Homo sapiens: one gene and its partners. The protein of the gene in region 4 interacts with the protein of the main gene of each other region in a pairwise test. Each region holds a gene or a part of one and is shown on either strand. Other genes may lie near its edges.

Evidence for each region.
Region 1: the proteins of TSGA10 (region 4) and ZBTB39 interact in binary tests that used the Homo sapiens proteins (3 or more experiments, as listed by UniProt).
Region 2: the proteins of TSGA10 (region 4) and NAB2 interact in binary tests that used the Homo sapiens proteins (3 or more experiments, as listed by UniProt).
Region 3: the proteins of TSGA10 (region 4) and ZNF599 interact in binary tests that used the Homo sapiens proteins (3 or more experiments, as listed by UniProt).

What each region holds. Positions count from the first base shown.
Region 1 is NC_000012.12:57,003,526-57,010,390, forward strand, and holds the start of ZBTB39 (zinc finger and BTB domain-containing protein 39), read right to left. Parts: upstream 3,022-6,865; 5' UTR 2,880-3,021; intron 1,437-2,879; 5' UTR 1,393-1,436; coding exon 1-1,392. UniProt on the Homo sapiens protein: May be involved in transcriptional regulation.
Region 2 is NC_000012.12:57,085,288-57,092,119, reverse strand, and holds the start of NAB2 (NGFI-A-binding protein 2), read right to left. Parts: upstream 3,007-6,832; 5' UTR 2,849-3,006; coding exon 2,766-2,848; intron 996-2,765; coding exon 122-995; intron 1-121. Other genes in the region: NEMP1 (nuclear envelope integral membrane protein 1), read left to right, coding at 4,036-4,306. UniProt on the Homo sapiens protein: Acts as a transcriptional repressor for zinc finger transcription factors EGR1 and EGR2. Isoform 2 lacks repression ability.
Region 3 is NC_000019.10:34,770,216-34,777,193, forward strand, and holds the start of ZNF599 (zinc finger protein 599), read right to left. Parts: upstream 3,001-6,978; 5' UTR 2,627-3,000; coding exon 2,609-2,626; intron 1-2,608. UniProt on the Homo sapiens protein: May be involved in transcriptional regulation.
Region 4 is NC_000002.12:99,144,919-99,151,945, forward strand, and holds part of TSGA10 (testis-specific gene 10 protein), read right to left. Parts: intron 6,752-7,027; exon of another isoform or gene 5,917-6,751; coding exon of another isoform or gene 5,641-5,916; exon of another isoform or gene 5,565-5,640; intron 3,431-5,564; exon of another isoform or gene 3,346-3,430; intron 2,576-3,345; exon of another isoform or gene 2,484-2,575; intron 2,205-2,483; exon of another isoform or gene 2,109-2,204; intron 1-2,108. Other genes in the region: uncharacterized protein C2orf15, read left to right, coding at 5,641-5,916. UniProt on the Homo sapiens protein: Plays a role in spermatogenesis. When overexpressed, prevents nuclear localization of HIF1A.

The DNA of each region.
Region 1 (6,865 bases), on a different chromosome or scaffold from region 4:
GAAATCTTTGGCCAATACTTTCCCACAGGCAGCGCATTTCAGCTCTGGGGAGGCTGCCCCTGAAAAGAGACCCAGCTTCCCTGGCAGGGGATCGTTGGGGTGGACAATGATGTTGTTCTCAAATATTCCATCCCGTCGGTGAAGGGTCAGCTGCCACTGGGTAAAGAACTTAGTTTCACACATGTCGCAGGAGAAAAGGAAAATACCAATGTGGGACAGGACATGAGTTACCCGGGAGTTTCGGTCCTGGAAGTGGGTCTCGCAGACCTTGCAGTTGCCCGTCAGCAGGTCCACATGGTCCCGAGCATGCTGCCGGATCAGTTGAATGTTGGGCTCTAGAACTTTCTTGCACACCTGGCAGGGCATGGCCTTATTCTCCCGATTGTCATTCTCTCCAAAAGCCAACTCATCCTCACTGTCATCACTCAGCTCAATCACCTCCTCAGTTGTGCCTATATCCTCAGCAGGGTCTTCAAACTGCAAGTCATCATCCCCCAGGTCCTCGAGCTGGAGCTCATCCATCTGCCCAAAGCCAGGATCTTTGGAGTGCTCACTATTGCTCAGACAGGAGTTGGTCCCAGTGGTAATGTCTACTGCATTGTCAGGGGTGAGGAAGCTGTTTTTACTGAAGTCTCCATTGCTTTGAACTTTGTATGGCTGGCAGGAGCTCGTGCTGGTCTGGATGCCCGTGCTGACAGTGCCTAGGAGTGGCTGGGTCATCATGCTAGGAATGGACGTGAAGGGAGCAGGGGTGTCATGGTCTTCTGTCTTTGGCGGTGGTGGGGGCGGTTGCGGCAGATGCAGGCTATGGTTAGCGTCACTGGCAACATTCTTCTCTTCCTCTTTATAGCTCCCTCCAGCATCACTGGGCAACACATAGTTTCTATCAGCACCAAGGTAGTCCCCACCACCTCGGAGTTCTCCAAGGGGATGGGCAGGTTCTGCCGAAGGACAACTCAGGGTACCAGAGTGGCTCTCACTGGTGCTGGTCAGGGGCTTGGCCCTGGCAGTGCTCTCCAGATCAGGAAAGGTAGAGTGACAGGCCTGGAGGAGGTCCTCCATACCCAGACGCTCAGCTACCTCGTAGATGACCCCAACATTGATCAGGTCTGTGAAGAGTTCTGAAGTGTAGACAAAGCTCAGAACCTTCTCAAAGTTGGCAGGGGTGATGAAGTCCACCACATAGGTCCTGGCAGCATCAAGCCCAGTATTCAGGAAGAGGTTCTGGAAGTAGCCAGCTGCACAGGCCAGCACAGCCTTGTGGGCCGGGAAGGAGCGGCTCCCCACCACAATGGTGACGTCGCACATGGTCTCTGAGAGCCGGCACTTGTTGAGTTCCTTCAGCAGGTTGTTGGGGTGGTTGGTGCTTTGCAGTTTGATCCTCATGCCCATCTTAGCAGCTCCTATGAAATTACCTCCTTATCAGCACAGTTAATCTGTGGATAGCAAGAGAAAAAGATGGATGGCCAAACACATCCGTGCAAAAGAGGGGCTATGCAGGAGAAAATACCATCACTCTGAATGCTTCCAAGCCCCAGGTAGGGATCAGGAGTAAACTGGCATGGAGAGTTCCTCCATTATGACAAGGCAATGACATCTCCCCCTGTATATACTCAAAGAGTTATGACAAAAACCAAAACGACTGATGACAATCTGATAGCTTGGTTTTAAGCTGGTGCCTAGAGACGAACCAGAGGCATTCCCTTGGACACAATCTTATACTTCATTACCAGAGCCACTGGATCAAATTTTTCTCCTATTAATTTCCTCCCAAATACAAGCTTTCCTAATTCATTGAGCATATTCTTTTCCCTCATGATGCCAAATACCATGCACATGCTTGAACACAACTATCAAAGCTCCACTAGCTACTGAGGAACATATAAGGTGGTTCCGTTTTTTAGCTTTGTCATTGCTGTGTCTTCAACCTCTCAATAATCTCCAAATAAATCTCACGTTCTTGAATCCCCATCTCTCTCTGCCTATACTACATACCCGCTCTCTGGCCTTTCGATAACCCAGAGCCCCTCCAGATATTGCTTTATCACAGTCCCTGTATTCTGTGAAGTTAAAACACTCAGAATGCACAGTAAGAAAAGTAGAACACAACTGTGGTAGTATTTAATATTACTTTAATATGTTGTATTCTTTTTCGCCACCCTTTTCGGGGTTTATATTTTGTTGTCCCTGCACTAACAGATTTACTTGATGCCGCAAGAAAGACTTCTAATTATACAGGTAAGACTCCTAGAGGCTTGTTCACTACCACTTTCTGCCCTTTCTGACTCCTGCACGACTAAGGAAGAAGAGCTACTTGCATCCCTGTTCAGTCTCACAACTCTGCCCAACACAGCCCCTTTCTCCATCTCTCCAGATTCTAACAACTCCCAACTTTTTCTGGGGCCCAGGAAGCGTCTAAGTATTGTGGGGTACCGGCCAAGCATCTCCCGGGCCCTGGTGGCCACCCCTGAACGATGGGCGGGTCGGAGCACTGGGCAGCCAGAGGAGAGGGTGGGAGAGGGGGAAGCTGGGAACTTCCAAGGACACCCCAACAATCCCCGGGCGCCGCGGTCTCCCCTCCGGAGTCGCATCTGGGAGGGAAGGGCGCTGCATCGGCTGGGGCGCTCCCTCTGGAGGCAACGAGCGCCTCAGTCCCTCCACAAACAGCGCGGGGCTCACCCGGGTGAGCCTGTTGGGGGCATGGGGCTGAATAAGGGGCCAAGCGAGGGGCGGCGGGGCCGGCCGGGGTCGGCGCGCGGGCGGGGAGGATGGGTCCGGCCGAAGGGAGCGGGCAAGAGGGACCCCAGCAAGAGCGAGATAAATGCCGGGCCGAAGGTCGGGCTTCGGCCAGGGGCAGCCCTCGGCCTGGCCGCGCTTACCCGGCTCTGCGGCGCCCCGAGCACCATCGCCGCCGCCGCTTCACACAAAGGCCCCGGCCCGCCGTGCCCGGCCCGACGAGGAGGCGGCGCCGCCGGCCGCGGCCAGACTCTCCATCCGCCGCGCGGCTCGCCGCGACGGCCCGGGCCGCCCCCGCCGCCCGGCCCGCAGCGCCCCCCGCCGTCCCGGAGGAGGCAGCGCCCCCCGCCGCCCGGCCGCAGCGCCCCCCGCCGCCCGGGAGGAGGCAGCGCCCCCCCACGGCGGGGCCGGGTCCAGGACCTGCGCGAGGGGTGCAGGGGCTTCCAAGTCCCCAGGCTGGCTTTTTCTAAGCGCCCATCCACTGTGCGCGGGACTTGGTGCCTGAAGAGTGAAAAACCCTATCCAAACTCTCTTCACCTCCCCTGTTCTACGCTCACAGTTCCAAAAGCTTCTCCTCAGAACATCTACTATGGGCATTTTACAAAATGTTGTAAGATTGTTTGATTACTATATATCTCCTCCACTAGGCTGTGGGCTTCCTGAAGGCAGGGATCTGTGGCTTTGCACACGGCCGCAGGTCCACACTGACCCTTACCACACTTCCTGGCACAATAAGTGCTTAATACATTAAGCCTGCTTGAATGAATGAAGGAGCACTTGAGGGCTAGACCGCTACTACTGGACCCTTCTGATAATCCACTGCTGTCCCTCCTTCCATCTAGGTGGCCAAATGAAGAAAGTCACCGGATCTCACTGTACTTTGGCACCCCAGGCCTGCTTCCTGAAGCCTGCCCTCCCCAACTCTGTGTAGAACTCGATCACTCTTCCTCCCCACCCTTCTCCCAAATCATCTTTTCAAATGCTTCTGCCCAAGAATTGTCATCAAACGAAAACCACCTACACTGCCTGCCCCACCCACCACCACCAAAGACATTAGAAGTCTTCGTCATGTCGCCCTCCCTCCCTCAGTACAGAGGAAGCTCTTAGGCTCCAAGACCCTTCAGTTTCATCCTCTCTCCCATCCCATCCCAGTCACTGCCTGAAAATAGCTTGCAGCCAAGGACAAACTCCCAGGACAGGCGCATGGTAGGATTCAGTAATTCCTTGATGGATAAGTGGAAAGGAAGGGACACACTGAATGTTGCCAACAGATCTAAGCCAGTTTGGCCATTCAGCAATTGTCCATTCTCTTGATGAATTTGGGAGATTGTGTGTCCTCCTTTCCACAACCTCATTAACTGGTGGCAGACTATACTGAAAGCAAGCACTATACCAAATGCTGCCAAACATGTAACATTTGTTAGCCAGGAGATACAAAAACAGCCATAGAACTGTTCTTATAGTTTGGGGATGAGGCATCTCACTTTACCATCTAGTGAAAGGGTCACTTAGAGGTTGACACAATGTTTCAGTGGCAGGCCCAGCTCTCACAGTTGTGCAAGGTGACTGAGTCTCCCTAAAGTGGAATATCACACAGCCAGCAGGTCCAGACCTCCAGCATGACTCTGGAGACAGAGGGCTGCTGGGCTTGCAAGGGCCTGGGCCTATACAGTCTTTCTAACCAACTGCCCCAGCCATCTCTGGAGGGTTGACCCCAATAAACTTCACATGAAAACAAATCATCCAAAAGACGCAGGTGAAAGTATATACCACTTATACTGAAGTCTTTTTAAAGTAAATCACCATATAGTCACAATAACAAACATATACAAAGTTAAATGGAGAAGAAAGGGCCAGGAATTTAGTCAAGGTCTTGTGGACCAGATCTCTTTAGGCATCAACTGTTTTACAACAGGAAAGGGAGGGTCAGGATCCCTTCACACATTCTTCAAGTACAAACACAGGAATCTAACTTAACATTTGTCTTCATTTTTTTCTGGAGTCCCCAGTACTGCAATTTTTGTCAGTCCCACTAGAGAGCAATCTTTCTGCACTTAATGTTCCTACTTGCAAAGCAATTGTCTCATCTCAGCCTATAAGCCTAACTCCCACCAAGTCTGAGCAGAACCAACTCTTGTAGCTTTCATGACCCAGAGAAAGCCCCTAGACTCTGCAAAAGTGTCCCCAGTTTTAAGCCCTATAGATAGATAATTTTGAAAAGTCAAAGAGATGACTCACTGGAAAAAGGGTCTAGGCTCTGGGGTGGGGGCATTCTTTGACCTCTGGCTATAAAGCTGACATAAGTAATACTAGGGTGAGTATTCCCTCCTTTCCCCGCCCCCCACTATACAGCTGTCATTCCAAAGTGGCCCCAAGTCAGGCTGTAGGAAGATAGAATTTTCACTAGAATGAAAGGACTGCAGGAAGTGGCCTCTGGCTCTGTGGCCCTGTCCTTACACTGCCTTGGGAAATCTATGTGTTGATGTTTTATCAGTGCAATTCAGGGGCATAACAAAGGCCCCTGTACCACGCTAAGATAAGGAGCCTGAGGATTTCACTGGCTGTTCCATTAGGGTACAGAACCCCCCTTAGGATGGCGGGTGATAGTTGACATCATAGATTAGTAAAAGACATCCATACCCATGCATACCACATGTAAGTGCCTTACACATTCTGGGGACTGTTAAGTCAGAGCTGCAGGAGCTGGTAACAGGCACTTTAGAGAGGAGTGGGAGATAAATGTTTTCCCTTTATAATAACTAAGGCAGCCAGTTAACGGTGAAGATATCTGCTCCTCTCTTTCTTGGCCTCGGTAGTAACTTCCCTGTCCACATCCCATCCTAGCTGGATCAAGTTCTGTTTGCTTGTCCACAGCCCTGCTAAACTGTAAACTCTGTGTATGAGTCATCATTTCATCCCCAGGATCTGTCACAGAACCCAGGCTCAGCATTTGGAGACAAAAAAATTGTATAGGGTCATAGATTTGTCCTCCTCTGTGGCTGGGTCTCCGGACAGCCTTGATCCCCACCTCCTTCTCTAATTAAGTAGGGTCAGATTCAGGAATGAATATCTCCCAGACCCATCCTAGTAATACAAGTCATTCTGAATATTTTTTTTCTTTTTCTTTTTCTTTTTTTATTGTTTTTTTTGTTTGTTTGTTTTGTTTTGAGACGGAGTTTTTTGCTCTTGTTGCCCAGGCTGGAGTGCAGTGGCGTGATCTCGGCTCACTGCAACCCCTGCCTCCTGGGTTCAAACGATTCTCCTGCCTCAGCCTCCCAAGTAGCTGGAATTACAGGCATGCGCCACCATGCCTGGCTAATTTTTGTATTTTTAGTAGAGAAGGGGTTTCACCATGTTGGTCAGGCTGGTCTCGACCTCCTGACCTCGTGATCCACCCGCCTCGGCCTCCCAAAGTGCTGGGATTACAGGCGTGAGCCACCGGGCCCGGCCTGTTTTTTCTTTATCTAAAACTGGTCTGTAAAAATCTTTGTGTGTTAGAAACCATCTTCCAAATTCGTGTATTTATTTTAATCACTAAATAAATCTGATACTCATCGTGCAAAGCACTGTGTAAGGCACTGTTCAGGAAATAGATATATACAAAAAGATATGTAAAGTTATTTACATTTAAATATGAAGTGTGTGTATCATAAGTATGTGTGTATTTACCATGTAGCTGGAGGAGTCAAGGAACAGAAAAACCCACCAACCAAACAAGTAAACACACACACCACATCATTCATATGCAAAAATCCTTTATTGTTGAGGAATAGAGAGAGACATTATATTTTTAATGTAGGACACTACAGGAACTCTAGGGTATTCTACAGTCAATGCCCATTGGGGTTGGGGATATTCACTATGCAGTTTCCACACCAGGGTCAGGTAGAAAAGATGGAGAAGGAGTCAAAGCACAAGAATGTTACAAGAACAGGGAAGAGAAAGGGTAACAGGAGCGTGCGCACCTGGGGATTGGGACAGGGAAAGAGGTCTTCCTAATGCAGTCCAGGAGTCCGGAAGTGGAGTACTGAGGACAAAAAACAAAACAAAACAAAAAAAAACACTGAAATCACATCTTATATCCTGTAAAAAAGTCCCACTGAAAACCTGCTGTGGCAGCAGGAGAGAA
Region 2 (6,832 bases), on a different chromosome or scaffold from region 4:
AGGGCCTGGGGTCCTGGTCAAGAGATAATGAAAGATAGTCGGAGACTGTAGAAACTCGCAGAGGTAAGCGGCTGGAGACCTGGAAGTCAAGGGCAATCCTAGGAGGCCTGGGGGTTCTCACCTCGTGCAGGCTGAGCTGCTTGCCCTCCCGCCGCTTAGAGTCGAAACGGCCATAGATGATGCTGTATTTGCGGATCTCCTCTTCCTTCTGGCTGTCATTATCATCCATCTCAAAGATGTGCCCAACGCTCCGTGCCAGCTTCTTATTCAGCTTTAGCAGGGATGTGACCTCCCCAGCATCCCCCCTTGGGAAGCTCCGGAAGATCCTCTCCACACTTTCCACCACCATGCGTACCATCTCTGGCTCCAGTCGGTCTGGACCACCCCCAGTCCCACCTGCTGCCAGCCCCCCAGCCCCAGTCCCCTCAGGGACTCCTCCCCCTGCAGGGGGGGAGAAGGGGGGCGAGCCAGCCTCCTCTTCTCCTCCTGCCCCAACGTCCGACTCTGGAGTGCTCCGGCCTGGCCAGATCCGGGGGTCCCCTGCCCCAGGTCCCCCAGGCAGTGGTGATAGCTTCTCTCCAAGTTCAAGGGGGCTCTTGGGGCTAAAACTGCGGGCACTGCCTGCCTTTTCCCCTGGGCTGCCATGCCCATTGCTCATGCTCCCTTTCCGGGTACCCGCAGTCTCAGAGATCTTGAAGAGCGGGATGCTGGAGACGGGAACAGCAGGCACTGGTTGACTGAAGAGCCCTGGATTGGTGGCCCACTCTCTCAGTGCCTTCTGCAGGCGCCGGACATGGAGGGGCTTGGTGGCCATGCCCACAAGTGCCATGATCTCCAGAAACTCCTCCTCACCCGCCTCACACAGCTGCTGCACGTCGTCCCCTCCCTGCTGGATGAAGGTCTCATAGTAGGAAAGGAGGTTGGCGCGCTGCAGGACCCGGTACAGCTGCAGCTCCCCCAGCGTCCGAGGCAGTGCCATGGCTCGGGCACTGGGCCTGAGAAGGAGGGGCACAAGAGAGAGGCAGTCGGTGCAAGTCCCCCTACTGGGTACCAACCCACACTAACAATTGTTCCCTCTTTCCTGCCTGCTTTTCTTCCCCTCCCTCATTTGGATGCTATCCTGCCCAGTGCCCAGGTCTGAGTACAGACTCTCAGAATCAGGCACTGCTCAGAGGCATGGACAAGCCAGTGCCGTCCTAGACTGGCCCGAAGCCCCAAAAGTCAGTGGCCTGTGTCTGTAGGAGTCGAAGCGTCTTACAACCTTATCTTCAGCTTTTATCTTTTTGGTCTGGGGCAAGAAGAACTTGAGCGCTGAGGCTGACCAGCACCGACCTGGGATGGCTGGACCTCCCTCTCCCCCAAAACACAATCCTCACCTTCCCCTCTAAACACTCAGCAGTCTCAACACTGAAGTGAAGTCACCCATACTAAAGTGAATGTAGGAGCCCAGTCTCCCCCACAGTGGACGCTGCTGGCCAGCTTCATTCCCTGTGAAGGGGCCACAGCCCCAGGTGGCTAAAAGGGAGGGTGTGGCACCTTCCCTGGCTTTCCCACTCAGTGAGCCAGGTGGTGCCTTACTCTTCTCCGCTCAGCTTTTCCCAGGGGTTAAGCATTTATTTATTTATTTATTTATTTATTTATTTGAGACGGAGTCTCGCTCTGTCACCCAGGCTGGAGTGCAGTGGCGCTGTCACTGCAACCTCCGCCTCCCGGGTTCAAGCGATTCTCCTGCCTCAGCCTCCTGAGTAGCTGAGATTACAGGCGCCCGCCACCATGCCCGGCTAATTTTTGTATTTTTAGTAGAAACGGGGTTTCACCATGTTGGTCAGGCTGGGCTCGAATTCCTGACCTCGTGATCCACCCGCCTCAGCCTCCCAAAGTGCTGGGATTACAGGCCTGAGCCACCGGGCCCGCCCGGCCTGGTTAAGCATTCTTAACGCACGCTTCCTCTCTCCCCTCAGAACCTCTCCACCCTTCCAGGCTGCCCAGTGCTCCTCAGTGGCCCCTCTCCTAGCAGTGACACTCCCCACTTCCTCGGTCAGCCTTTTCCTTCAGCTCAGGGGCCGTGGCAGGGGGAGGGGCGCAATTGTTCTGCTCCGGGGCCGTTCCGCCCACACACACTCCCACAGTGGTAGCGTCTGTAGGCGAAAACCGCCCAGGGGCTCCCGCCTACTCTCCTCTCCCATATTTTCCACCCGCATCTTCAAGTGGAGTGGGGGAGCGGCTCAAGGCCTCTTGATGAAGGGGCTGCACACTGAAACTCCCCTCCCCGCTCTGTGAATAAAGGGACAGATATGGGAAGGAACGCCTAAGGCCTCCCTGCCTCCCTCGTCACCCCCCCTTTCCCCCGCTGATGCTCCTTTAACTCAAAGGCACCGGGGGCCCGCGCGCTCCGTGCCAACGAGGGACTGAGGCAACTGAGCGTCCCCCCACCTTCCGCACTGATGCCAGCTCGAGCTCCAGGGCATCCCCTGGTGCTTGGAGGCTCCCACATTCTTTGCAGGGGGCTCTTAGGCCAGATGGAGCCCACAGAGTAAACCAGGAATGGAGATTTGGGTACTACTCTTTCATATCCAGCTTCATCAGATGCTTGCCTGCTCCCAGGGCCCCCTAATTCGAAGACGCACCCCCTTTTCCATCAGTCTCCACCCCCCACCCCCGTCCTGCTTCCCCACGTCCTCCCCTCGACCTCCGCCCTCTGGACCCCATTCCCAAGTCCAGCTCCACCCATCTCCACTCCCCGCTGCCTCCCTTTGCCCACTAACTTGAGTCTGGGCTGCAGGGTCCGGCGGGCGCTGTCCCCTCCGCCCGGCGGCTGCTCGGCTGTGGGGGAAGGCGCTCTGTGCATGGACGGCCGGAGATCACCCGGGCTGCCCTTCTCGGTGCCCGGCGCTCGGCGCCTGCTGCGTGCTGCCCTCTTCCCCGCGCACGATGCCGTGTCCACCGCTGTCCAGGCTCTGTCCCTCCCTCCACGTCTTCTCTCTCCGAGCCTCCGCGCCTCTGTCTGTGCCTCTGCCCCCCCACCCTCCCCGGCTGCGCTTGCCGCCTCTCCGCGCCTCCGCCCCCGCAGGACGCACAGGGAGCGAGGCCCGGAGCTGCGCTGGCTGCCGGGCTGGCGGGCGGAGGGCGTGGGCAGAGCCGGGGGCGGGGGTGGGGGCGGGGGCCGGGGAGGCGGGCGCTGGGGCCTCTCGGCCGCGGAGACGCCGCGGCTTAGAGACTGGGAGAGGCGGAGACGGGGGGGGAGGGGGTGTGGAGCAGGAGGCGGGGGCGGGGATTCAGAGCCGGGGCGCCGAATTGGGGACCGAGGTGACCGAGGCCCGGCTGTGCAGGGCGGGCTTGGGGACCCAGCGGGCGGGGCGAGGTCGTTCTGTGCCGCCCACGCCGGATGCACAGCCGGCCCTCTTGGCGCCCACGTACCCACGTGAGCGCCCCGCCGGCGACATTCCTTCTCTCCCCCACCCCTCCGAGCTGAGAGAGGAGTTTCACAACCACGCACAAGTACACAAAGACACAGAAGCGCACGGACGTGCACACGCGCCTAAACAACTACGGGGACGCCCGTTGCCCATACTCAGGCCTTGTGGTGCTGGACGTGTGAATGTTAGCAGTGAGCCGGGAAAAGTTAGCGAAGGCTGGGCTGTGCGGCTTCTCCTGTGCGTGCATCTGACTCCCGTATAGTGTGCACTTAAGGCGGGCCTGAGAGCGTGGGGCTCTGCAGGGATCTCCTAGATATCCCCGCGCCCCTCCTCAGCCCCAATGGAATAATCTGAGGGGGTCGCTCTCAGAAACCCAGGCCTCCATGCTAGCCTGGAAAGTTTGGGAAACAGGAATGGGAGGGTTATGCTGCACGCCACCACTTAGGTGCGCGTGTTGATTAGACGCGTCGGCTTTTGTCAGCGCGTAGGTCAGGCAGGGATTCCTCCACTTGTCCTCTGTTTGCTGAGGATGAGGCCCTGCCTGGGAATTTTGTGTGACAAAGACGATACCCTTCCTGGGGCCGTCTATTAGGGACCTCGCCCGAGAGTCTAGTGGAAGATGAGTAAGAGGTCGGGAGCCTACGACGTGACTTCCTGCGGCGGAGCTGGAAGGAGGAGCGCCTTGAAGGAGCTTAGCCCCCGCCTCTGCAACCCACCACCGTCTCCCCCTTTGGTTTCTCCTAGCCCCATCTGGTTCGCATTGCACTCCCGCCCACGGCTGGGAGGGCTGTTGGGGGAGGCGGGGGCTCTAAGGGCCCGGCCCATAGACTCTAAGCCCCAGGGAAAGGAGGGGGGGTGGGGGCCGGGGAAAGCGAGCGGACTGGCCACAGGTGAGGTTTCCCCTAGTCCGGAATCTCAGCCCCGCCCCGCCTCTCTGTCCGCACTTCTGAGGGGCTGGGGTGGGGCATGGCGGGGCGTGGAGGCCGTGGACCGGGGCTGGTTTTACAATGTGGCCTAGCGAGGAGACCTTTCCGCCTTGTGGGGTCCGGGGAGAAGGAGCGCGTTGTTGGTGGGAGGATTTCAGTTGCTCAGGTCCTCTTCTCCAACCTATTAAGCGCCAAACACAGTGGGGGTGGTGGGAACGAGCAGAGTCCCGTCTCCCAGTCCCCCGCCCCGCAACTGGAGGGTGCGGCTAGACGGGCTCCCCTGGGGACGCTCCCGACCCCGTACGGGGTGTGGGCGACCCCTCCCCCCCCACCTCAGGTTATTTTGGATCCCGGGCTGCCAGCCGCTGGCCCCGGGTTTCCACGTGCCCCCTCCCTCCCCCAGCCCACGCTCCCCGTGACGCACATCCTCCGCCCACGCAGCCTCTGCTCGAGGCGCCCCCCTCCCTCCCACCCCGGCCCCCTTGGGGCGGCGCTGAGCCTTAGGATCTGGAGGGAGACGCCCGCCCAAGGAGGAGGCGGAGTAGGGCGTGAGCAAGTGAGCGGCAACCTACTGGGCGCGGGGCGCCCGGGTCCCGGTCCTGATCCGGGAAAGAGGGGGAGGGAGGAGCCGATTTTGAGCTCTCCGCTCCCGGGTCCTGGGAGAGGGGGTGCTCGGCCAGAGAGGGACGAGGGAAGAGAAATTCCGCAGAAGGGGCCTGCCCACTCCCCTAGGGGAGCCAGCGGGGGTCCGGGTGCGAACCCGTGTGTGAGAGTGAAACTACCGGGTGTTTGTGTCTTTGTGCCCTTGTTTCTCAAGATTGTCGTGAGATTCGGATGAGAGAATGTACGGGAAAACTCTCTAAATTGTAGAATGCTAAGCATATTTAAGACGCTACTGCCAGTTTGTGTCTCTGTACCCGAGATTATGTATTTATATGTTTCTTTATATCCACTTGTATATCTGTGTTCCTCTCTCTCTCTAGGTTTGTGTATGAGCCCCTATTTAAAAAATCATTGACTTGTCAGGGCCCGCCAGAGGCCCAGAGCGCCCCCGCAGCCCGCAGCCAGAGCTGCCGAGATGTCTGTTCTTCCCGCCCACTCCTGCCACCCCCAACTCCCCTCCTACTCCCTTCCGTTGAGAACAAGGAATTTCCAGCCTGTAGCAAAGGGAAAGAGGCAAAGACAAAGACGGAGACCATGGGAAACTATAGAAAAACATAAAGAGACAGGTGTGTGTGTGGGGGGGGGGGAGTGGTGACAAAAAGGGAGTGGGGACAAATACAAAAATTTTCATTTGTTTCCTGCATGGGACCTGTTCTCCCCTGTGTCCCCTTGGCTCACTCAAAGAAGGACCACTTCTGTGCCTGACTCACCTGCTCTCCCCATCCCCAGTGCTCTCAAAGACAGACCAGAGGAACTGATCTCGTGATAAAAAGGATTAATATTCTTTTATCTGTGCTGGTCTCCTCCGTGAAGGGAAACAGTATCCTCAGTCCTAGTTTTCCAAGAAAAGGGGAAACGATTGCGAGGAAAGGGAGGAAAGTGGGCGGAAGAGGAGTGCAGAGACTGTCGTCCCTACGCGCACGTGTAGATTTTCATCTAGCAGATTGCTCTGCTCACTCCTCCCCCAACGTCTCCACTGGGCCAGATCCGACTCACTCAGCAAGGTTTGGCTCACCCTCTCCTTCCTGGACCCCTTCCACTCCTCCAGGCAGAATTAATTCCTCCCACCCCTCGGTGGCCTCCTCATTGCTCTTTGTACACATTTCCAATTATAGTTGCTTGTTTCAGCCGAAATCCAGGACCTCTCCAGGATAGGCCTGTTATCTGGTGGACCCTCTGAAATGAATAAATTGATCCTATTCACAGGCCTGTGCAACTTTGAAAGGGCACATGACACAGATTTTACTCCCAAAGGGGCTGAGCCTGGGCAAAACTGTTTAAGTGAAGACATTTGTTTTCCATATCTCTTTCCCTTGTAAAGTTTCCAGTGAGTCCCACAAATCTGGCTCCTTGGCCTTCTAAAATGTCCACCATTCTGGTAAATTAATTCACACTCAGATGCTAAAGGTAGTAGGCCGAAGTCCTGGCTGGTAATAGAAAAGTATAAAGTAATGATCCCTTTTTTCTCTTTCAGTAACATGGCAGAATTTATCATCTAAGGAATGTTGTCCTTCAAGTTAGTTATTTTACAAGAAATGTTTCACTCCTGAAAGACAGATAATCCTAACCACTGCCTTTAAGGAGCTCACAGACTAATAGGGGAAATAGACCTATAAACGAATAATTACAACATAGTGCAATAATATGGGTACAACAATGACAGAAGTATAAGAGGGTGAGTGATCTGTTCTGCTTGGAGTTGTGAGGGGCCTTGGTTTAGACAGGCATCCAAAGGAGGTGATGATGCAGTCAGTATGAGATTTCCAGGAGTGGCCAGGGCGGTGGCTCACACCTGTAATCATAGCACTTCAGGAGGCTGAGGTGGGA
Region 3 (6,978 bases), on a different chromosome or scaffold from region 4:
TCACAATCAGCAAATTGAGGCTCAGAGTCAAGTCACTCAGAGTTGTATGTCTAATGAGCAGAAGCAGGATTTGAACCCACATCCCTCGGGTCCAGGATCTATGGGTGTAACCCCTGTACTCCTCCATCACCACAGTGAATCCACAGTGACAAGGGCTAAAAATACTTCCTACAATTTTTACAGTTAAAACAATTTCAGCCACTCCTGAAAATATTGCCAGAGGTATGGAAGGAAGAGCAGAGCCTTCCTTTGCCTCATAGAAGAGGCACCTGAAGAGGTGCCAACTGCCTAGGGCTTGGGAGAGCTCAAACAAAGTTTCCCTGCCCTCAGGCAGCTGGGACTTGTAGACTCCCTGGAATATCCCACAATGAGCGCCAACCTGTTCTTTTTCTTCCTGAGCCACGGTTAGCACATTTCCCTTAGGTACAGGTAACACAAGTGGCCAAGGGCAATGCAGGCTGTGGCTCTAAGAACCTGGCAGCTGCCTTAAGCACCACGTCTGTCCTGGGTGAGAATGGGATGTTGGCATGATGATCATCAGATGATCACACAAGACACGTCAGCAGGTGACAAGCCTTGGTGTCACTCTATGTCTCCTCATGCCTCTGCCTTTGTCCATGCAGTTCCCTTTGCCGGGAAGGTTCCCCAAAGACCCCTTCATTCCAATGTCCACCTGCTAGAGAGAGGCCTGCACCTTCCCCTTGCAAAGTGTACTTCAGCTGTCGCCCCCAGGGATCTCCAATCCACTGTGGGTGAAATATTGGTTAAAAATGTAAGCTTCTGGCTGGGCACGTCGGCTCATGCCAGTAAGTACTTTGAGAGGCCAAAGTGGGAAGACTGTTTGAGTTCAGGAGTTCGAGGCCAGCCTGGGCAACACAGTGAGCCCATCTCTACAAAAAATAAAAAAAATTAGCTGGGTGTGGTGGCACACACCGATAATCCTAGCTACTCAGGAGGCTCAGTGGGGAGGATTGCTAGTGAGCTGCGATGGGGCCACTGCACTCCAGTGTGAGCAACAGAGCTAGACCCTCTTTCAAAAAAAATAAATAAATAAAAAATGTAGGCTTTTATGCTCGACATACTGGATTGTTTCTGTTACTTATGAGCTATGCAACCTTGGGTAGTTAATCTGAGTCTCCGGTTCCTCTTCTGTAAAGAAAGGAAAATGAAAGAATTTTACTCTGAGAAGAAGGGCGTTAAATAAGGTAATACACAGAAACTGCCTCTCAGCACATTATCAATGCGCTCAGTGAAGACCAGCTACTATTTGTTGCTGTTAGTATTTTTCCTATTTGCTCCTGTCGCACCCTAGGAGAGCTCAATGCAGCACACATCCAGGAGCAGCCTTGCAGAGATCTGGCGACAATGTGACAGAGAAAATCGTCCAATGAGCTTGGCATGTGCAGGAGAGAAGAATGGCAGGGGGAGTGTCCTGGTGGATTGGGCAGTGACTTTGCAGCCATGGTGGGGTATGGGGTGGGGTTGGGTTAGATGAAATCTAAGTAGGATGGGAGCCCCAGAGGATAGAATCTCATTCATTAATCACTTATCGACTAAGTGGTACAGGCCCAGAACAGAATAGTTTTGGGCCTGGGGATGAAAAACAGAACAGAAGCTGACATTCTGGGGTTGGGGGACAGATCCTCAGCAATAAACAATCAAGATAAAGTCAGAAGACTCTAGAAAACAACACAAGAGTGAGAAGACCACAAAGACTGGGAGAGACTTTACATGATGCAACCAGGGAAGCTCTCTCTGAAGAGACCCTGGAACAAGGTTAGATTGAAGTTAGAGAACAGACCAGGTGAGGAAAAATGAATAGACAACTCCTGAAGGTGATCAGAGCTACGAGGAGTAAACAGTGTGACATGCTGGAGAGTAACTTGGGGCCTTATGTGCTCACACTCCAAGAGACATACATTCATGTACACTGTCATTAATGAATATTGTGCTGGATTTGCTTTTCAAATACAAGAGCATGTGTTAAACAGAAGCACGGATTCACTGCTGTTAGGCGGCAAGCCAGATTCATTTGTAATAAACAGACGGCATCTGCAAAGATAAATCCAATGAGCTTCTTGTCTTCTAGCCTCCTGCCAAAAATGCTGCTCCCGCCTCACCTCTTGCCCTCGAGGCTCTCATTCCCTCTCCCAGCTTTTGGTAGGGCCAGACTTCCGCTGGAATGATCCCCTAAAACAACAGCAGGACCTAGAGAGTCCTTCTTCAAAGACGGCACCTAGAGTGATGCTCTCCGAGCAGTGAAAGACAGGACCCACGTCACAAGCGTACCCTCTCCAGCTCCCTCCACAGAGAAAATTACTGAGACTCGCATTTTAGACCCGAGGGAATGGAGGCCGAGGGCAGCGAGGCGACAGCTCCAGGTTAGAGCCAGAGACAGGGACCTCTCCTTACAACTCCTGTCCTGGATTCAGGACCCTGGGTAGGAAGTGATTAGCCCTGCCCTCTCACCTCACCCTCTCCCGGGATCTCCATAACCTAGGGCATCAAAAGGGAGAAGCACAGAGTCCCGGCATCCGCCGTATTACAGCGGATGGGTGCATGCGGGCGGTGACCCGAGCTCGCGCGGGCTGCGGAACCCTCCACTCACCAACGCCGGCGCCGCCATGGGCCCAGGGGGCTGGGTGAGGCCGTGAGAGTCGGCGAGGAAGCCGGTCCTGCGGGCTCGGCCGACCCCGGGCTCCGGCTCTGGGCTGCGAGGGACCTCAGTCCCCGCCGTCGTGTAAAATGCACACAAGGTTCGCGGCGCCGCCTCTGCGCGCCGTGAGGACACAGGGCTGTCGCCAAGGCCCCAGGAAGGGTTTTGCAGACGCTTGTGGGGGTGGGATCGCGGCTGACATAAAAGCGTGTAAGTGGGTCCTATCCTCCTCACTGTCCGTCTCTACTCGGTCTCGAAAAGTGGCCCCTGTCTGGCGTTCTACCCAGTGTAGCGTTGGCAACCACAGCAGCCGCAACCTAACGGCGGACGAAGACTGGACGCCGGAAGTCCCGCCCACGCCGCTACGGGAACGCCCCTCTGCGCCTTCCGTCTATGGCTTGGGGTCGGCTTCCGTCCCTTGTAGCACTGCCTTCTGGGTAATGTAGTTTGACGGAATCCGGGTGGTACCTGGAGCGCACTTTCTGTTCTCGGTGAGGCGGCTTCTCAAGGCTCCCAAGAAAGGGATTGGCTTCACCTCTTCTTAAAGGAGAGGCACACAGAGTTCCGTGGAAATTATCTGAGGCAATGACCCACTCTCAAATGTCTCTACCAGGCAACTCACGCCTTGACTTTCCTCCCTGTGTATCCCTGCGCCAGCAGTTCATCTCTCTGAGCCTTGAGATGGAGATTCCTAAGGAAAATGAAGATAATTATTTAATATGATAATATTAAAATTTCCCCTATCAGTAATTTTCAGATGACATCAGCATTACCTGCGAATTTGTTACCAATGCAAGTTCTTAGTCCCCACCCACTGAATCAGGTACTCTGGGGGGTGGGACCCAGCCCTCTGCTTAACTTGTCCAGGAAAAGTGGATGCTGCAAAACATTTGAGAACCAGACTCTTTAAATTCCAGTAAATAAATGAGACAAAGCCACCTGTTTGGTGGGAAGTAACTAAGAATTGCTTAGCACTGGGCCTGGAACATACCGATAAGAACATAAGAGCTATTGCTGTCATTATTAATATTCTGTATTATTGGCAACATCATCACAATACACTGCTAGGGGAGGGTCTGAGATACTTCTTTGCAGACTCTGATATTTGTCAAAACAAATACGTTGACTGATTCAACAGGAGCCTCATGAATACTGTTTAAATTTTACATAATAATACGTTGCAGCATTTGGCGTATGCATCTTTTTAAAACGGTATATGCAGGAGGGTTTCCTAATATACAGGTAGACCTATTGCCCAAGGGATACTTTCTTACATGATTCAAAACTTAGGATCACTGAGACTAATTACCTGCAGCCCTAAGGGAAGAGTGGAGTTGACATGGTTTCTAGTTTGTGATGTAAGATGGCGTGTCACTGTTCATCTCTAATTCACAGCAACCAGGATCTGACCCCTCCCCATCTGCCCCTCCAGCCCCCAGGGAAGCCAGAACCAGGCACAAACCAGATGGCCCAGCTTATGCCCAGCAACTCAGGGTCACCAGATCTTGTCTCATCAAGACACTTTCAGCCCACCACCCAAACCTGTAGCCCACATGAAGAGGGCAATAATCCTGGACACTGTGAAAAGTAAAAGCATTACATCCAAAGAGGCATCCCCAGGATGGAGCAGAAATAAGAAAACATAATGAAGACACAATTTTGCAATCACTTCTGCCTATATTCCATGGCCTACAAACCACTCAAATAGCTCCACATGTAAGAGAAGCCAGGATGTGCTGTCCTCCAGAGCATCCAGAAAGAGATAATGGGACTGATAAGTCCTTGGCCATTTTCTAGTAAAATCTATTAATTTAGTCATCAGATTTCCATTCTATTATTTATCCTATACATTCTACACTCTCACATGCTTCTTAATGCGAGAAGCCAAAATCTGCATGCAGTCTCTGACCTCATCTGAATGTTAAGATCTCAGGGTGATATGTTATGCATCTAGTCCAGATTTTGGGTGGGGATGCAGCCAAACCATATAATATTATGGGGCCTGTTGGGAGGTGACTGGATCGTGAGGGTAGATTTCTCATGAATGATTTGATGCCATCCCCTTGGTGCTATTCTTGAGATAATGAGTTTTCTCAAGATCTGACTGTTTAAAAGTGTGTGGCATCTTCCCCTCACTCTCTCTTGCTCCTGCTCTCACCATGTGCTACACTGGCTCCCCCTTTGCCTTGCACCATGATTGGAAGCTTCCTGAGGCCTCACCAGAAATTGAGCAGATGCTAGTGCTATGCTTCCTGTACAGCCTGCAGAACTGTGAGCCAAGTAAACCTCTTTTCTTTGTAAATTACCCAGTCTGGGGTATTCCTTCGTAAATTACCCAGTCTCAGGTTTTCCTTTACAGCAAAGCAAGAACAACCTAACACATTTACCAACTTATGAATGGATAAACAAAATGTGATATATCCTTATAACAGATTATTCAGCCATAAGAAAAGACTGCAGTGCTGATATACAATACAGCATGGAGGAACACTGAAAACATGTAAGTGAAAAAATCAGCTACAAAATAACCACACAGTATATAATTCCATGTATATGAAGTGTGCAGGATAGGCAACTCTATAGAGGTTGAAGGTAGATTAGTGATTGCTTAGGGATGGTGGGTAGTGGTGGGACAGCCGATTGATATCTAAGGGATATGGAGTTTCTTTGTGAAGTGATGAAATGTTTTAAGAATAACTGTGGGGGATAGTTGCACATATATTTAAATATGTTAAAACCACTGAATTATGTATTTTGAACGTGTGATTTATATGGTAAGTGAATTATATCTCATGAAGGCTTTTTAAACAAAACAACACTGCTGTAACTTAGACCAAACCAAAGTTTGTGTCAAATCCTGCTATGTAATATTTGTTACATTTTATAGTCTAAAATCTAAGCTTTATTTATGAGGATACTCACTTCATTGCTGAGGTGTGTCAACAAAACATATTAGTAAATTTATACGAACAAAATATTAGACCTATTACTGCGAAAATACAAAACTTGGAAATAGGAAAATTTCTTTAAAAAGAATCCTATTTAGAGTCAAGGGAAGTTATGAAACACATCAAGGAAATGAGTAGTTGCTAAATATTGAGTTAATATGTTATACATTCCTTCTCAGTGATTACAGAATACTTATATCAAATGAAATTAGATGAAATATATATTTGAAAGGTAAACATCCAAAGTAGAATAAATTTATCATTTTGTATCCTAAGTAATAGAATTTCTTTGTTGCATTTACTTTCAATCAACAAAATAGGTAAGTGCTTTATTGCTACTACTTTGATTTATTTCAAAACCTCTTTGTACAATGTACAAAATGTAAATGTAACTTTAATGTAAATTGTTTTTATATAAATTGTGACTCAAAATATTTGGACAGACAAGTTGTGTGAGATGGGCTTTAGGCAATCATGCAATCCTAACTCATATTTCATACAGAATTCATATATTTTATTTACACATATTCACTTCACACAAGACTAGGGCTAAATTTAAGTTAATGGGTTTGATTATTATTTTCCCACATTAAATAACAACACTATTTATATACACCTCAGGGATATTCCCAGAATTTTAAACATGGGCTTGCGATTCTTCAGCTCTTGAATCAAACAAAAATGTTCTGGAGTTTTATAAACTAATTAGCAAGGCAGCGGCTGTTTCTATTGAATAATTCACTGCTATTTCTGTGATTCTAATAAATGATTGCAAAAACAGGAAATCACAACTAACCAAATTCCTCACATTATTAGTGAGGAATTAGTGGAGCCCCAAAGTGGGGCTCAGACTGTGAGGGTTCTTGGCTTCACCCAGGGAAGGATTCAAGGGCAAGCCAGTGGTAGAAGAAAACAGTTTTATTGAATAGGCAGTGTTACAGCTCTGTGACTGCCTCTGCAGAGCAGGGCTACCCCATCGGCAGAGAGTAGCAGCTCAGGGCAGTTTTGCAGTCATATTTATACCCACTTTTAATTACATGCAGATTAAGGGGCGGTTTATGCAGAAATTTCTGTGGAAGGGGTAGTAACTTTTGGGTCATAGGGTCACTGCCATGGAAAGGGGTAGTAACAGCCAGGTGTTGCCATGGCAATGGTAAACTGACATGGCACACTGGTGGGTGTGTCTTATGGAAAGTTGCTTCCACCTCATCCCTGTTTTAGATAGTCCTCAATTTGGTCCAATGTCTGACCATGCCTCTGGAGTTGAGTCTTGCCTCCTATCTTAAAACGATAAAAGCATTATGAGGAAATTGTCAAGCCCAAGGGTGAGGTGAAGAATTCTTAGATATGATACCAAAAGGGACATAAAGGGGA
Region 4 (7,027 bases):
AAGAGACAGGAGAGAGTGCTTGCTAGTAGAGTTGTTTGCTACGGCTGTGCAACAATTTACCACACACTTGGTGTCTTTAAGCAACACAAATTTATTATCACACGGTTCTGGAGATTTACAAGTTCAAATTGGGTCTCACTGGGCTAAAATCAAGATGTCAGGCAGGTCTACATTCCTTCTGGAGGCTCTAGGGGAAAATCCCCTTTCTTGCCTTTCCAGCTTCTACTGGCAGCCCATGTTCCTTGGCTTGTGATCCCAGTCTATATTCAACGCCAAAAATGGCCAGTCAAGTCCTCCTCACATTGCATCATGGCTAACACATTCTACCTCCCTCTTTCACTTCTAAAGACTCTTGTGTGGCAGGTGCGGTGACTCACACCTATAATCCCAGCATTTTGGGAGGCCAAGGCAGGTGGATCACTTGAGGTCAGGAGTTCAAGACCAGCCTGTTCAACATGGCAAAACCCTGTCTCTCCCCAAAAATACAAAAATTAACTGATCGTGGTGGCAGGCACCTGTAATCCCAGCTACTTGGGAGCTGAGGCACGAGAATCACTTGAACCCAGGAGGCGGAGGCTGCAGTCACCCTAGATCACACCACTGCACTCCAACCTGGGCAACAGAGTGAGACTCTGTCCCAAAAAGAAAAAAAAAAAAGACCCTTGTGATTACATTAGTACCACCCAATTAATCCAGGAGAATTTTCCCACCCTCAGAGTCAGCTGATTAGCAACCTTAATTCCCCCTTGCCACATAACATAACATAGTCCCAGCTTCTGGGGATTAGGACAAAGACATCTTTGAAGACTATTATTCTGCCTACCACAGCTGGGGACCAGATATGTAGATAATTTTTTTCTCTGATATGGGAAGCAACTAGAGTGTGTTGAGCAGAGGACTGCTGTGATCTGGGTTTTGTTATAAAAGGTTCAAACCAGTCCAGGCATGGTGGCTTACGCCAGTAATCCCAGCACTTTGGGAAGTGGGAGGATTGCTTGAGTACAGGCATTCGAGACCAGCCTGGGCAACACAGTGACACCCTGTCTCTACAAAAAAAATGAATTTTAAAAATTAGCCAGATGTGGCCAGGTACGGTGGCTCATGCTGTAATCCAAGCACTTTAGGAGGCCAAGGAGGGCAGATCACTTGAGGTCAGGAATTCGAGACCAGCCTGGCCAACATGGCGAAACATCGTCTCTACTAAAAATACAAAAATTAGCCGGGCATGGTGGCAGGTGCCTGTAATCCCAGCTACTCGGGAGGCCTCAGCAGGAGAATCATGTGAACCCAGAAAGGCGGAGGTTGCAATTTCTTTGCAACTTGAATTTCTCTGATTCCTAGTTAATTATCTGTTTGGGATTCCTCAATCTGTGAATTATGTTTTTATATCCTTTGCCCATTTTTCTATTGGGTTTTCTTTTTCCTTGCTAATTTCTAGGTGTTCTCTTTTTATTCCAGCCATTAAATACCATCAGCTTTGGACACAGAAAATATCTCCTTCCAGTCTCTTATCTATCTTTTTGTTTATATTTTTTTCATTGAATAGAAATTCTCAATTATGAGTAATCAAACTCACTGTTTTCCTCCCTTATTGTTTAAGCTTTTTAGTCTTGTTCAAGAAATCTTTCTTCACTCCAAGGTAACAGATATTTTCTTCTATTGCATTTACAGTTCTGCCATTCACATTTAGGTCTTTAATGCATTTGCACTCCACTTTTTTTTCTTTTTGAGACGGAGTCTTGCTCTGTCGCCCAGGCTGGAGTGCAATGGTATGATCTCAGCTCACTGCAACCTCCACCCCCTGGGTTCAAGCGATTCTCCTGCCTCAGCCTCCTGAGTAGCTGGAATTACAGGCACCCGCCACCACACCTGGCTAATTTTTGTATTTTTAGTAGAGACAGAGTTTCACCATGTTGATCAGGCTGGTCTCGAACTCCTGACCTCGTGATCCGCCCACCTCAGCCTCCCAAAGGGCTAGGATTACAGGCGTGAGCCACCGCGCCCAGCCTACTTCTGTGTTTAAGATCCTGCTTATGTCCACATAGTTAGCCAATGTTCACGATACCATCATACTAAACTTAGTCTGTTCTATCTCCTTTGTCTTATAGTGCCACCTGTGATATATGTGAAGTTCCTGAAATACCTAAGTCCAAGTTACAGCTCTGTCATATTCTACTGATTATTTGTTCCTGTACCTGTACAAGGTTATTTTTATTACTTTCACTTTGTGGCATATCTTTTTGTTTTTTTTAATTTTTTTCTGATAGGGATGAGGTCTCCCTATGTTGCCCAGGCTGGTCTCAAACTGCTGGACTCAAGAGATCTTTCCACCTTGGCCTCCCAAAGTGCTGGAATTACAGGCGTGAGCCATTGTGCCCAGCCGCGTAGCCTATCTTAATATCTAGTAAAGAAAGCCACTTTGTTCTTTTTCTCCAGATTGATTTATCTCTTTATGTACCTTTATTCTTACATATATATTCCAGATTTCTTCTTGAATGGCAACCTAAATGCCAGTCCAAAGAGGCCCCCAATAGACTTGTTCACCCTTCATGTCCTCAACTCTGGGGAAGTTAAGGTAAGACTCACAGGGCCAAGTCTACCCTATTATACTTGGTTCCTCCTCAGTCCTTTTATTAGATTGAAGTTTAATGTGCAAATTGATAATTATATGTTACCATTCTTTTACGTTTGTTGATTTCAAATGCCATGTTTTAGAGTTTTGTGTTTTTTAAAACGTTTTTTCAATTTTGTATTTTGAAAAAGTTTTAAACCTACAGAAATGTAATAATAATAATATGTAGAACAACTTTTTAAGCTTTACCTCCTAGATTTAACAGTTGTTAGCATTTTGCATATTTTACTGTCTTTCTGTATCTATGTATCTATCTATCTATTGCTAAACAATTTGAGGGCAAGTTGCAGATACAATTCTTCACCCCTAACTATTTCAGTATGTATTTCCTAAGAACAAGGACATTGACTTATATAACCACAATACAATTATCATATTCATGGCATTTATCACATTGATCCAATATTATTATCTAATATTGTCCCATATCCAAATGTTTCAGTTATCTAAGTAATGATCTTTGTAGTACATTCCATCCCCTTCCCAATTCAAGAGCATTGGTTGCATCTGAAATAATGTATCTTTAGCCTCCTTTAATCTGAAACAGTTCCTCAGCCTCTCTGTGTCTTTCATAACATTGACATTTTTAGGTAGAAGCTATTTGTTTCATAGAAGATACTTCTGTTTGGGTTTATCTGATTGTTTCCTCATGTTTAGATTCAAGTTATGCATTTGACAGGAGTATTTCCTTTCTAAGAAAAAGAGAAACCAAATAGAATAAACTCAATTTTATTCATTTGAAGGCAGTATTAGATATTCCTTTGATGAGGAAGAAAAATTCATCTTCAAGTTCCAAATCTAAAAATCAAATATACCCATATTTCAGAATTTCATCAGAGATATTAAAAAATTTAGCTAAGTTGTATTTGAGTCCCAGAAAGCCAAATATATACTATTTACCTAATTGTTATATTAATATTTGAGTAAGTACTATATTTAGGCTACTACAGTAGACCCAGGACTCTGTTTTGTTATAAACACTGATATTCAGTCACAAATATGGATAAACAGGGTTTCAAGATGATTCTTTAGAAATGTTCAGTCAGTAATTACAGCTTGATGAGTATGAAATTGTAAACTATCAAAGATACCACAGTAGGTAAATATTAAAGACATAATACATTCTAAAAAGTGGGTGAGGCTGAGCGCAGTGGCTCATGCTTGTAATCCTAGCACTTTGGGAGCTGAGGTGGGTGGATCACCTGAGGTCAGGGGTTCAAGACCAGCCTGGTCAACATGGGGAAACCCCGTCTCTACTAAAAATACAAACGTTAGAGTTTCTGTTTGGGATGATTAAAAGTTCTGGAGATGGATGACCATGATGTTTGCACAAAAATGTAAATGTACTCAATGTCATTGAATTGTACACTTAAAAGTGTTTAAAATGGTAAATGTTATATATATTTTACCACAATAAATAAAATATAGACTGGAAAAAAAATAAATAAAAATAAAAATAAAAATACAAACATTAGCTGGGCCTGGTGGCGGGCACCTGTAATCCCAGCTACTCAGGAGGCTGAGGCAGGAAAATCACTTTAACCTGCCGGGTGGAGGTCCAGTGAGCCGAGATCGCACCACTTCACTCCAGCCTGGGTGAAAGGGTGAAACTCCATCTCAAAAAAAAAAAAAAAATGGGTGAGGGATTTCGATCGAAGCTGTGGAATCTGCTCCAGATCTCAGGTTGCTACTATAGCATCTTGGGTAGATCACTCTTCTCCAGTAAGCCCTGGGCTTTCTCAAACCTTTTCTGTACAGGAAGCCTGTCCCTTCTGCCATCCTGGTCAACTCTGCCTACCAAATTCCTGCCCATCTTTGAAAGCGAAACCCTAACCTAGGCTCCCCTCCTTTGGGAAACTTCCCAAGGCCTCCCTCCATGCTACATGATCATCTTTTTTTTTTTTTTTTTTAAGACGGAGTCTCGCTCTGTCGCCCAGGCTGGAGTGCAGTGGCGCGATCTCGGCTCACTGCAACCTCAGCCTCCCGGGTTCACACCATTCTTCTGCCTCAGCCTCCCGAGTAGCTGGGACTACAGGTGCCCGCCACCACGCCCGGCTAATTCTTGGTATTTTTAATACAGATGGGGTTTCACCATATTAGCCAGGATGGTCTCGATCTCCTGACCTCGTGATCCACCCACCTCAGCCTCCCAAAGTGCTGGGATTACAGGTGTGAGCCACTGCGCTCGGCCGATCATCTCTTTTTACAGACTAGACATCCTTAATCACAAGTATCTTTTTTTTTTTTTTTTTTTTTTTTAAGACAGAGTCTCGCTCTTGTCGCCCAGGCTGGAGTGCAGTGGTGCAATATTGGCTCACTGCAACCTCCGTCTTCCAGGTTCAAGCTATTCTCTTGCCTCAGCCTCCTGAATAGCTGGGATTTCAGGTGCATGCCACCACACCCAGCTAATTTTTGTATTTTTAGCAGAGATGGGGTTTCACCATGTTGGCCAGGCTGGTCTCTCAATCCTAACCTTTGGTGATCCACCCGCCTCGGCCCCCAAAGTGCTGGGATTACAGGCGTGGGCCACCGCACCCAGCCAATCACAAGTATCTTTATAGGACATCTTTATTTTTTACAGAAAATAAAGTACTAGCAGAGTACTTGGCCTTCAGTCGTTATTTCTTTAGCCCATTAGTAATGAATAAAGAGGTTTCGCTAGCAAGAATGAAAGAAAGGACTAAGAGAAGCTCTACTATTTTCTGAAAGGTGATAAAACATACAATCAGATAAATTTCCTTTTAAAAAGACTTTCAAATAAATCTTTAGAACCTGCAAACCCTCCCACAAAGAAAATGTAAACACTGAAAGGTAGGAGGCAATTTTACTTTATATTTCTAGTATCACCACAGCTTTTCATTCAAACAAACATTGCCATGAAGTTAGGGAAATTCCTGCTGCATTCACTTGTTACTTTTTTTTTTTTTTTCAGTAATCAAGTTGAAGAAACACTTCCACTACTTAAAAAGGTACCTGCAAATTACTTTCACATTTGTTCAGCTATCCTAATGGGATTTTCACTTAGTAAATCTGCTACTCAGGTATCTGCTATACATATGGATTCAAAAGTGGATGATCACTTAATACGAGGGACTGAAAAAAGCAGGTTGGAACCAGCGACTCAGTTATTTCAAAACACCAAGAAAATAAGATTAGAAGACACAAATCAAGAAAACTTTACAAGGATTGAAGGGACTGGCACAGGATCTCTTTCTGGGAAAGCCTTGGGTTCAGTGGTATATGTCAAAGAAAGTGATGGACTAGAAATGACAGATGTGGAATGAAGCAATTTGTACGTATTACCAAAGAAACCAAAAACTGCCTTTGACTAAGGGGGGTGTTGAAAGAGAACTTAACCTTATTAGGAAACCCTGACAAAATGATGGAAGACTATTGCCTTATTTTGCACTATTTGTGAATCATCTTACACTGCATTTTTTTATGATGCTTATTCAAAAGGCAGTTGCTTTAGGGTGAAAAAGCCTTCCAAGATTCAAAGCAGATTTCTCTGGTATTATATTATATCCTTCTTAAAAACCAGAGTTTTTAAGTAACAGTATTTGAATGGCATCAAAACATTTTCATTTTAATGTATTTCTTTAACAAGTGGTTAAAAAAAGTGTCCAAGCAGCCGGGCGCAGTGGCTCACACCTGTAATCCCAGCACTTTGGGAGGCCAAGGCGGGTCAATCACCTGAGGTCAGGAGTTCGCAACCAGCCTGGCCAATATGGTGAGACCCCATCTCTACTAAAAATGCAAAAAGTTAGCCAGGCATGGTGGTGGGCACCTGTGATCCCAGCTACCTGGGAGGCTGAGGAAGGAGAATCGCTTGAACCCTGGAGGCGGAGGCTGCACTGAGCTGAGGTCATGCCATTGTACTCCAGCCTGGGCAACAAGAGCAAAACTCCGTCTCAAAAAAAAAAAAAAAAAAAAAAAAGTCCAAGCAATGTGACATCCGTATTTCACAATATTTCTGGTGTATCAGTTTTGTATGTTACATTTCCATTTTGGGATTCTGCTTTATGATACTTTACTTTCTTACATTTTGCATTTTTGTTCTGTAAAAGATCACTGCCAATAAACTGCAAAAGACCAATAAATTGCATATCTTCAGAAGGATTTCACATTTTAAATCGTGCCTTTAAAACTGCTTTTTCCCCCCACATAGAATCCATTTTAGAGTTAGAAAAGTGTTCTTTCCAAGTGTTAATAGTTTGTCTTGCAGATGGTACCATTTTATGTCACCAATATTTAATATGAGAAAAAACAACCTGTTTAAAAACCTTGTTTTGTATATCAGTTATGAAAATATCTGGTAGTTGGAAATCTCTTTAATATTCATTTTAAAAGAGGAAAGGGCATCTTTTCCGGGGGGAAGCTATATTTTATTAATCA